2 linked regions of the Homo sapiens genome follow. The protein of the gene in region 1 purifies or fractionates together with the protein of each later gene. This does not show direct contact. Each region holds a gene or a part of one and is shown on either strand. Other genes may lie near its edges. The genes, in order: PFKFB4 and BDH2.

Evidence for each region.
Region 2: the proteins of PFKFB4 (region 1) and BDH2 purify together in Homo sapiens (affinity purification with mass spectrometry, with the first as the bait; one large-scale study listed by BioGRID). This does not show direct contact.

The regions. Positions count from the first base shown.
Region 1 is NC_000003.12:48,553,905-48,558,507, reverse strand, and holds the start of PFKFB4 (6-phosphofructo-2-kinase/fructose-2,6-bisphosphatase 4), read left to right. Parts: upstream 1-1,704; 5' UTR 1,705-1,730; coding exon 1,731-1,827; intron 1,828-2,274; coding exon of another isoform or gene 2,275-2,422; intron 2,423-3,564; exon of another isoform or gene 3,565-3,583; intron 3,584-4,498; exon of another isoform or gene 4,499-4,603. UniProt on the Homo sapiens protein: Synthesis and degradation of fructose 2,6-bisphosphate.
Region 2 is NC_000004.12:103,089,547-103,093,356, reverse strand, and holds part of BDH2 (dehydrogenase/reductase SDR family member 6), read left to right. Parts: intron 1-660; coding exon 661-757; intron 758-2,071; coding exon 2,072-2,180; intron 2,181-3,810. UniProt on the Homo sapiens protein: NAD(H)-dependent dehydrogenase/reductase with a preference for cyclic substrates. Catalyzes stereoselective conversion of 4-oxo-L-proline to cis-4-hydroxy-L-proline, likely a detoxification mechanism for ketoprolines.

The sequences.
Region 1 (4,603 bases):
CTGTGGCAGGGAGGGCATGGGAGGGGGTGCTACACCTATAGCCCACGAGGCCAGTCTTGTTGCCAGTCCCATGCCCTCAACACCTGGCTCCTGGCTGGGTACACACTGGGCAGAGAGAACCTGAGGATGCAGGGCACCTGCCAGGGGTGTTGTGGATGACATCGCTAGAGGGCAGTGTGGCTCAGGTTGAAGCCGTGTTGGTGGGGGCTGGGGCAGAGAGTGTACAAAGCTTGGAGAGGCGGGGCTGGGGATCCCGAGGAGGCGGGAAACTGCAGGAGTCCGGTGGGGGCCAAACAAGAAAGTGAGCCAGGGGTTTAGGAACTTCTGGATCTCTCCCTTGTTCCTTGTCCCCAGTGCATTTTCAAAGACAAGAGGGAGATACAAATATAGTAAAAGGCAACCATAACGTATTTTAAAATGAATTTCTTAGAGATTGACATACTTAATTTATACTGTAATACTGTAAGATAGACAATGTGCACATCCCATTTTCCTGAAGAGAAAATGTTATTAACATATTATTTTCAAAAAATATGTAAAACTTTAGTTAAAAAAACCAAAATACTAAAAATCAAAAAAAAATTGTAAAAAATGAAATTCTGGAAAGACGATTAAGATACTCCCAGGGCTTAGTGAGTACCCAAAGTACTTGGTTACTAAGTGCCACGCACGGCCGGGCGCGGTGGCTCACGCCTGTAATCCCAGCACTTTGGAAGGCTGAGGAGGGCGTATCACCTGAGGTCAGGAGTTCGAGACCAGCCCGGCCAACGTGGTGAAATCCCGCCTCTACTAAAAATACAAAAATTAGCAGGGCGTGGTGGTGGGCGCCTGTAATCCCAGCTACTTGGGAACCCGAGGCAGGAGCATCCCTTGAACCCGGGAGGCGGAGGTTGCAGTGAGCCAAGATAGCGCCATTGCACTCCAGCCTGGGCAACAGGAGCGAAACTCCGTCTCAAAAAAAAAAAGTCCCACGCATTTGCTCCCAGCAGCCAAAGCAAAGAAAGAGGAACAATATTGAAATGTGTTTTGAGTCTCTATCCATGAGGTAAAAGAGCTTTTCCAGCGTGGTTGAGCATGCTCCTATGGACGGCGGAAGAGTCCCGGGGCTCGGAGCAGTCAAGGGGGACCCCGAGGAGGGGCAGGAGGGCGCAGCGGAGTTGACGGCTGGGACTGCAGGCCTACTGGCCCCTGTCGGCTCTGACCAACCTGGCCGTGCGGGTCACGTAGGCCTCGTCCCACTGCATGAAAACCCCTCCCTCCTGGGGGCCCTGGGCTCCCTAGCAAGGAGGTAGCAGAATTCACGCGTGCCGCTGCTCAGGGATGCAGCGCCAGGGCGGAGCCCGTAGGTGGGGCCTATGCAAATCAGCGCGGGCAGGTTGGGAGAGCTGAGTTTGCGCATCCGGGGCGGGCCTGCACAATCCGGGCCTTGAACTGGGGCGGGACCAGTACAATCCGGAGTTGAGCATGCGCATTCTCGATCCTGGCCTGAAGAACTGGGCCCACTTGTTCCAAAACGGGCGGGTAGGTGAGTTGGGCATGCGTGGTCGGAGGCCGGGCCCCTTTCAGCTGGGGCGGAGCCTACTCACTCTGGGGCGGGACCTGCGGGAAGATAGACATGGGCTGTCGCGGCTTGAGGAGGGGCGGGGCCCAAGGGGCGGGACCTCGGGTGGCCCGAGGTGGCCCGGCTGCTGGGTTGGAAGCGGCGCAGTCCGACTCATCCCGGCCCCGGGATGGCGTCCCCACGGGAATTGACACAGAACCCCCTGAAGAAGATCTGGATGCCATACAGCAATGGGCGGCCCGCTCTGCACGCTTGCCAGCGCGGTGGTGAGGCGGGGTCCTCTGGGAGGAGGTGGGAGGTGCACCGGGATGGGTGGGTAGGGCGGCCTGGGCGGGGGTCTCGCATGGAGAAGGGGCGGGAGACAGATGGGGAACCGGGGACAGGTGAGGTTGCCGTGACTGGGGAGGCTGCTGGGGACAGGTGAGGCGGTCGTGACAGTGGTGGGCCAGAGACAGGTGTGGCAGAGCAGGGGGCGGGGACAGGTGTGTGGGGGCATATCGGCTTGGCGGTGGCTAGGTCTGGCCACCATCACCTCGGGGAGGGCTCTGGCCCCCTCGCTTCCCTCTCCAATCCCCATCGCCCCCAGTCTGGGGAGGACCCTGTGGGCACCCCAGGCCCTTCCCTCTCTCCTGGCCAAGGAGTGTGGGCCGGGTTGTTGGACTGGAACTGAGCTGTGTGGCCCTAGGTGAATTACTTGGCCTCTCTGAGCCCAGAACTTTCAAAGGTGGGCTAGTTTTCCAACAGGAGGAAGGGTGCCTCTTGGCCTTAAAGCTGAGCTTGGGCAGGAACTTCAGCAGAGATGTGCTCAGGATAGAGACAGAAAAGTATGCCGTGTGGGCCTGTGTCTGTGTCCCGGGACATGTAAGTATCCACCTGGGGTCATGGGTGTACAGTAAAACTGGAGAGTGAAACAGCTAGGAGAATGCTGAAATTCATGGAATTGTTAAGGGGCTCACCTCTCCTAGGGTCCCAGGTGTTTAAACCGCTTCCTTGAGTTTCTGCCTGTCCTTAAATGAGCTGGCAGTTTTTTTTTTTTTTAAGAGATGAGTCTCGCTCAGTGGCCCAAGCTGGAGCAAGTGCAGTGGCGCGATCATAGTTCACTGCAGCCACGACCTTCTGGGCTCAAGCAATCCTCCCACCTCAACCTCCCGATTAGCTGGGATTATAGGTGCGCCACCACACCCAGCTTTTTTTTTTCTTTTTTCTTTTTTTTTGTAGAGACAGGGTCTTGCTATGTTGTCTGGGCTGGTCTCCAACTCATGGCTTCAAGTGGATCCTCTGGCCTCGGCCTTCCGAAGTGTTGAGATTACAGGCGTGGGTCCTGGCCTGCAACTTTTTTATTACCAGGAAAAGAAAGATTTGTTTTAGGAGTAACTGAAACATTGTAATGAATTTGCAGCTTGTCCAGCACCTCAGAGAACATCTAGTTTAACAGACAGTGAAATGGAGATCAGGAGATTGAGTGACATGCCTGGGTCTCCCTGTGATCCTGCCTCTGCTTATGTATGATAAGCAAGGGGAGAGTTCTTTGTGCTCATCCTGCTGCAGCAGCCTGGAGCCATGGCTTTGATCATGATATGAGTCCTGGGGGAAGGGTGTGTGTATTTCTGGCCACACTGTGAGTCCTGGCAGGGGAAGGCCATGTTTCTGACCAGACCAAGTCGTGGTAACTCATGGCTTTGATTGTGATGTAGGTCCTGGTGGGGCTGTGCTGTCTATAATGCACACTCAGTCCTGAGGGCTATGGCCACCCCTCCTTTGAGACTCTTCTGGAGGCGGGGAGGCTGAGCCAGTCTGTGTTATTAGGGCTGTGTGGTCCTGACTTAGGGGGGTGGCTGCTATTACTACATAGGGGAAAGGAGTGAGGACCTGGACTTTTTTTTTTTTTTTTTTTTTGAGACGGAGTTTCACTCTTGTTGCCCAGGTTGTAGTGCAGTGGTCCTATCTCAGCTCACTGCAACCTCTACCTCCTGGGTTCAAGCAATTCTCCTGCCTCAGCCTTCCAAGTTGCTGGGATTACAGGTATGCGCCACCATGGCCGGCTAATTTTGTATTTTTAGTAGGATGGAGTTTCACCATGTTGGCCAGGCTCGTCTTGAATTCGTTATCTCTAATGATCTGCCCCCCTTGGCCTCCCAAAGTGTTGGGATTACAGGCATGAGCTGCCATGCCTAGCCAAGTCTGTGAGCCTTTAAGGAGTAGGTCCTCAATAAGCGGAGGCAGGGTATTCTGTCATCACTACCATTCTTTCTTTGCTTCTCACTACGTCTGAGTCAGGGATTGATGCATCAGCTCCAAGCCAACCCCCGTTACAGGTGAGAGGAAGCTGAGGCCCAATGGGAAGGTCTCATAGCTCCTGAGGCAGGGCTTGTGTTTCTCCAGGCTCTAAGTGTGGAACTGAAATGTGGCTCTGGCCTGAGCTGAGGGGCTCGTGCCATCACGGTGTCTCAGGGTGTTGGGGTAGGCTGGGTTCTAGGTCCGCACTTTTTCCTGGAGGAGGAGGTAGCACCTGAGAGGCCAAAGATGAGACCTGCAGGTTGTTTGGGGATTTGGGCCTCAGGGTTCACAGCAGGGAGTGGGTAAGCAGTGAATGAACATGGAACCCGCCCATGCAGCACCTCCAGCTCCCAGTGCCTGCATTTGGGCAACACTTTACCCTTTGCATAGTAGACTTGTAGGTTGAGTGACTGCAAGGACAGTCTGGACCCGGAGGGTGTGGGTGGGGATGGAAGCGGATTTGGTCCCAGGGCTTTGTGGGGAGGAAGAAGCAGGACCCACTGCTGGTCTGTGCTTTGTACTGGGTTTTCTCTGGAGTCTAGTCCCCAGCTCCTCAGGGCACTAGGGGCTGGTGGACTGAGGGATGTACTGCACCTCCTCCACTCCCACAGGCACGCCCCCGCTTGATAAAATTTAAAGCCACACCTGAGGGCTTGGGAGGCTTTTACCTTTCCCATCATTGGCCTCCGAGCTCAGACCTGGAGGAACTCTGAGGGCAGGTGGGGCAAGAGCTGACTCAAGAAGGACTGCAGAAAGGACGGTGTT
Region 2 (3,810 bases), on another chromosome or scaffold:
GAAATACATGTATTTGACTGGATACCCTTGACTAACAGAGTCATTTCTAATAAATAATGGAAATGACATAAAGGGGAAGCTCACAAATAGAAACAGTCTCTTATTCCAGAACACTTGCTCTTCTCCACCCCTCACTCAGACAAAATTCTGATTACTGTATAGGTACCAGCAACCCAGTCTCTGGCAGGGGAAGGATAGGGGAAGGACATCTTGAATATATGCAATTTTTATTTCTCAATTATACCTCAAAGAAGAGAAAATTAAGAGAAAAGCTGCAAAGAGGAGAAAATTAATGTTTGAAGTTTGTAAGAACTTCAAATGAGCCCATTTTCAGTTATTACTGCTGGCTTACTGAGAAACATCTAATGTACACCAGTCATTCTTTACTATAAAGCCATTGCTCAGAAAGGACCCTTATTATTCAACTTGGAAAATGGACAGAGAGGAAGGAAGAGGGACGGATGGGTTATTGGAGGAGTCAAGATGGACTTTAAGTTTACTAATGAGACTCTGAAGATTCTTAAGACCCTAGTAAGAAGGTCAGCAATCTATGAAGCCTAGCTGGATAGATGTTGCAATCTTCACACTTCACACTTCAAAACAGCTAAACCTTCAAGGCTAAACATTTTTAGGAATAGTGCCTCTTGTTTTATTTTTCAGGTATTCAAACTCGTGTCCTTGATGTCACAAAGAAGAAACAAATTGATCAGTTTGCCAATGAAGTTGAGAGACTTGATGTTCTCTTTAATGTTGCTGGGTAATTCATAACTTTTTAGTTTCACTTTCCTTACAGAAAGTTTTCTATGACTTTCATTCAAAGAATTTTCATAATGTGGCAAAATCATTCATTGTGAACCATGACATATTCCTTGGGAAATATGGCTAGATTTTACACAGCATTTTCATTACACATAAAATTCAGCAGGTAAGACAGCCTTAGAGTTTGACATGATCTGGGGCAAATGAGGTCTACTCAAGACAGATGGTACTGATACAAAGCTGTATTATGTGTTACAATGTATGGAAGTTAAATTAAAGCAATAATTTCTGATCATCTATTTTATAAATAGTCTTCCATCCTCATGTAAGAATACACCCAGAAACATGAAACAAATAGTTAGCAAAGTTAGTTTCTGAGCATCTATTAAATTTTCAGCCATGTAGGGGATGTAGAAATAATCATGTGGTTCCTGCTGTCATGAAACTGACATTCTGACTGAAATAGCAGAGCTTTGGTACATGGAAGTCACAGCCAACAATATTTTATAATGAATTACATAATTTGGGTCCAGAGGACCAAATCAGTAAGGGTTCCAGTGTTTTGGAAGCTTCCCTCAGAAAACGTAACTTGAAAAATAGTGAAAGCTACTTTACGGGTTTGTTTTGTTCTGCCTTAACGTCTCTCTTACAACAAACTAACATCTCTCAGTATGTTAGAACACTAGCAGTATCACTTTGCTGCTCTGAGATGTTCAGACACTTGTTTTCCTTGCAATTTTGATTTCCCTTGAGAATTCTAAATCTGTGCCACCTGAGGGCACTGTTGCTCTTGAAATAGGAATCACATAGGCAAATAGGGCAGATGTTTTTTCTCTCTCTCTTTTTTTTTTCTGAAACAGGGTTTGTCTTGGTTCCCCAGGCTAGAGGGCAGTGGAATGATCATAGCTCACTGCATCCTAAAACTCCTGGGCTCAAGTGGTCCTCTTGCCTCAGCCTTCAAAGTAGCTGAGGCTGCAGGTGTGTGCTACCATGCCTAGCCCTGTTCGCCTTTATTTGTTGTTTGTTTTTAATGGCATTGATGTTTCCAGCACAATTAATATAAAGCTTCTTATGTTCGGTGACCATACTTTTGTTTGGAAAACAAGGATCTTGTTTTCAGATGACATTTCTAGCTTAAGTTGTTGGGATTCTTACTAATATAATATACTAAGTGATACTATGAATTGTTTAAAGTCTTGATAAGGGAAAGAGACAGTGGTCTAAGTCACTAAGTGACAATAAAAATAATCAGCAGATGGAATAGAAAAATTTTAATGGCAGTTATTCTTCCATTGTTTAATCACTCTTCTAGTTTTGTCCATCATGGAACTGTCCTGGATTGTGAGGAGAAAGACTGGGACTTCTCGATGAATCTCAATGTGCGCAGCATGTACCTGATGATCAAGGCATTCCTTCCTAAAGTAAGACCACCACCACCACCACCAGGATAAGCACCACATTAGGTCTCTGTACTGGGCACACAGAAGGGATTCCCACATGTGCTGAAGAGTGATAATAACTAACACAATGATTAACTTGCATTGAACATTTATATCAAGGCATTTCACATAAATTAATCTATTTAACCTTCCAGCTCATCCACTCAAGGAATATTTATTAAGCACTTTCCACATGCCAGGCTCCATTCTAGGCACAGAAGACACATAAGTGAACTAAACAAAGTGCCTTCTATAAGGCAGGTTCCATTATTGGGGGTGAGATGGGACAATTAGTAATCAAATAGACATAGAATATGTGGCGTGGTTTTAAATATAATGAAGAGAAAGAAGCTAGGATATCAATGCGGCCCCTCTGGACTCCACCGCAAAGGTGAAACTGGCATAGCAGTCCAAGAAGTGAGACAGCTGATCATTCAGGTACCTTGGGAGATGATTCCAGGCAGAGGTAACAGCAGGGAGGCACACGAGACTGGAATGATCGTATGAGGTAGATACTATTATCTCATCCATTGTTCAGAAGATGAAACTGAGAGTTCAGACAACTTGCTCAAGGTCACCCAACTAGCACATGGTTAGAACCAAGATTTGAAGCCTGGACGTTGAGCCCCTTCGTGAATTTCAGTCTAGGCTCACACTCTCAAGAGGGATGTACCCCATTGCTTTTCTCTGCCCTGAAGCTTCTCCCTTCGCTCTTGTTTTGATCTGAACCACAGTGGTACTGGGCAGGTGAGAGACAGTGTGTGCTCAAGACAGCATTCCTCCTTGAATTCTCAAGCCTTCACACAACGCATCAATGTTTAAAATTTTATTTTATAAACTAGCATTAAGTACCTCTTGGTATAAATCACTATATAAAGTGTTCTAGGGGAGTATAAACATGAGCAGCGTACATCCCTGATTTCAAATGAGCTTATAAACCAGTAGTAGCAGACAGTGCAGGCTGAGACAATGAAAGGGGTTGACTGGGTACAGAGCCAGCTCAACTCAAGGTTGTAAATTGAACCTAGTGAAATGCAGAAGAACAACTTTTCCCTTCCATCCCAGCTGGATTTGATGTCCTGTCCATGTCTGGGCAGGAGAAGAGCTTTGTTAATGGCACAGCAGGGCTGATATTCTACTCTGAATATTCAACCTAATGTTAAGAAGGTTCCAGATGAACATTAACAGGAAAATTAGAGAAACTGACTTAGTAATGAAGGGACTTTGAAAAATCTACTTGTTTAGTGCTTAGAAGGGATTTTTGGGTGGGTCCACAGAATGTTGAACTAGCAAATTTTTATAACAAATTGTTTTTTTTAATGTAAGTTGATTTTTTAGCCTATTTGGAGTTTATGAGAAACTATAGTATTTGGAACACGAATGTATTTTTGAAGACAGATCCTTTGCATAGGTTACAGGGGTAGAGCAGAGACTGTGGTATAGGAGGAAAGCTTAGGTCATCGTGGGTAAGACTGTTGCACATGCATGAGACTCATTTGCAAAACCAGGCTCTAAAATGCTTTACAAATTTTAGTAAAGGAAGTAGGTGTGGAGTACAGTGGAGCTGAAATGTAAACTTGTGTTAATTTTTAAAATATACAAACATTAACTT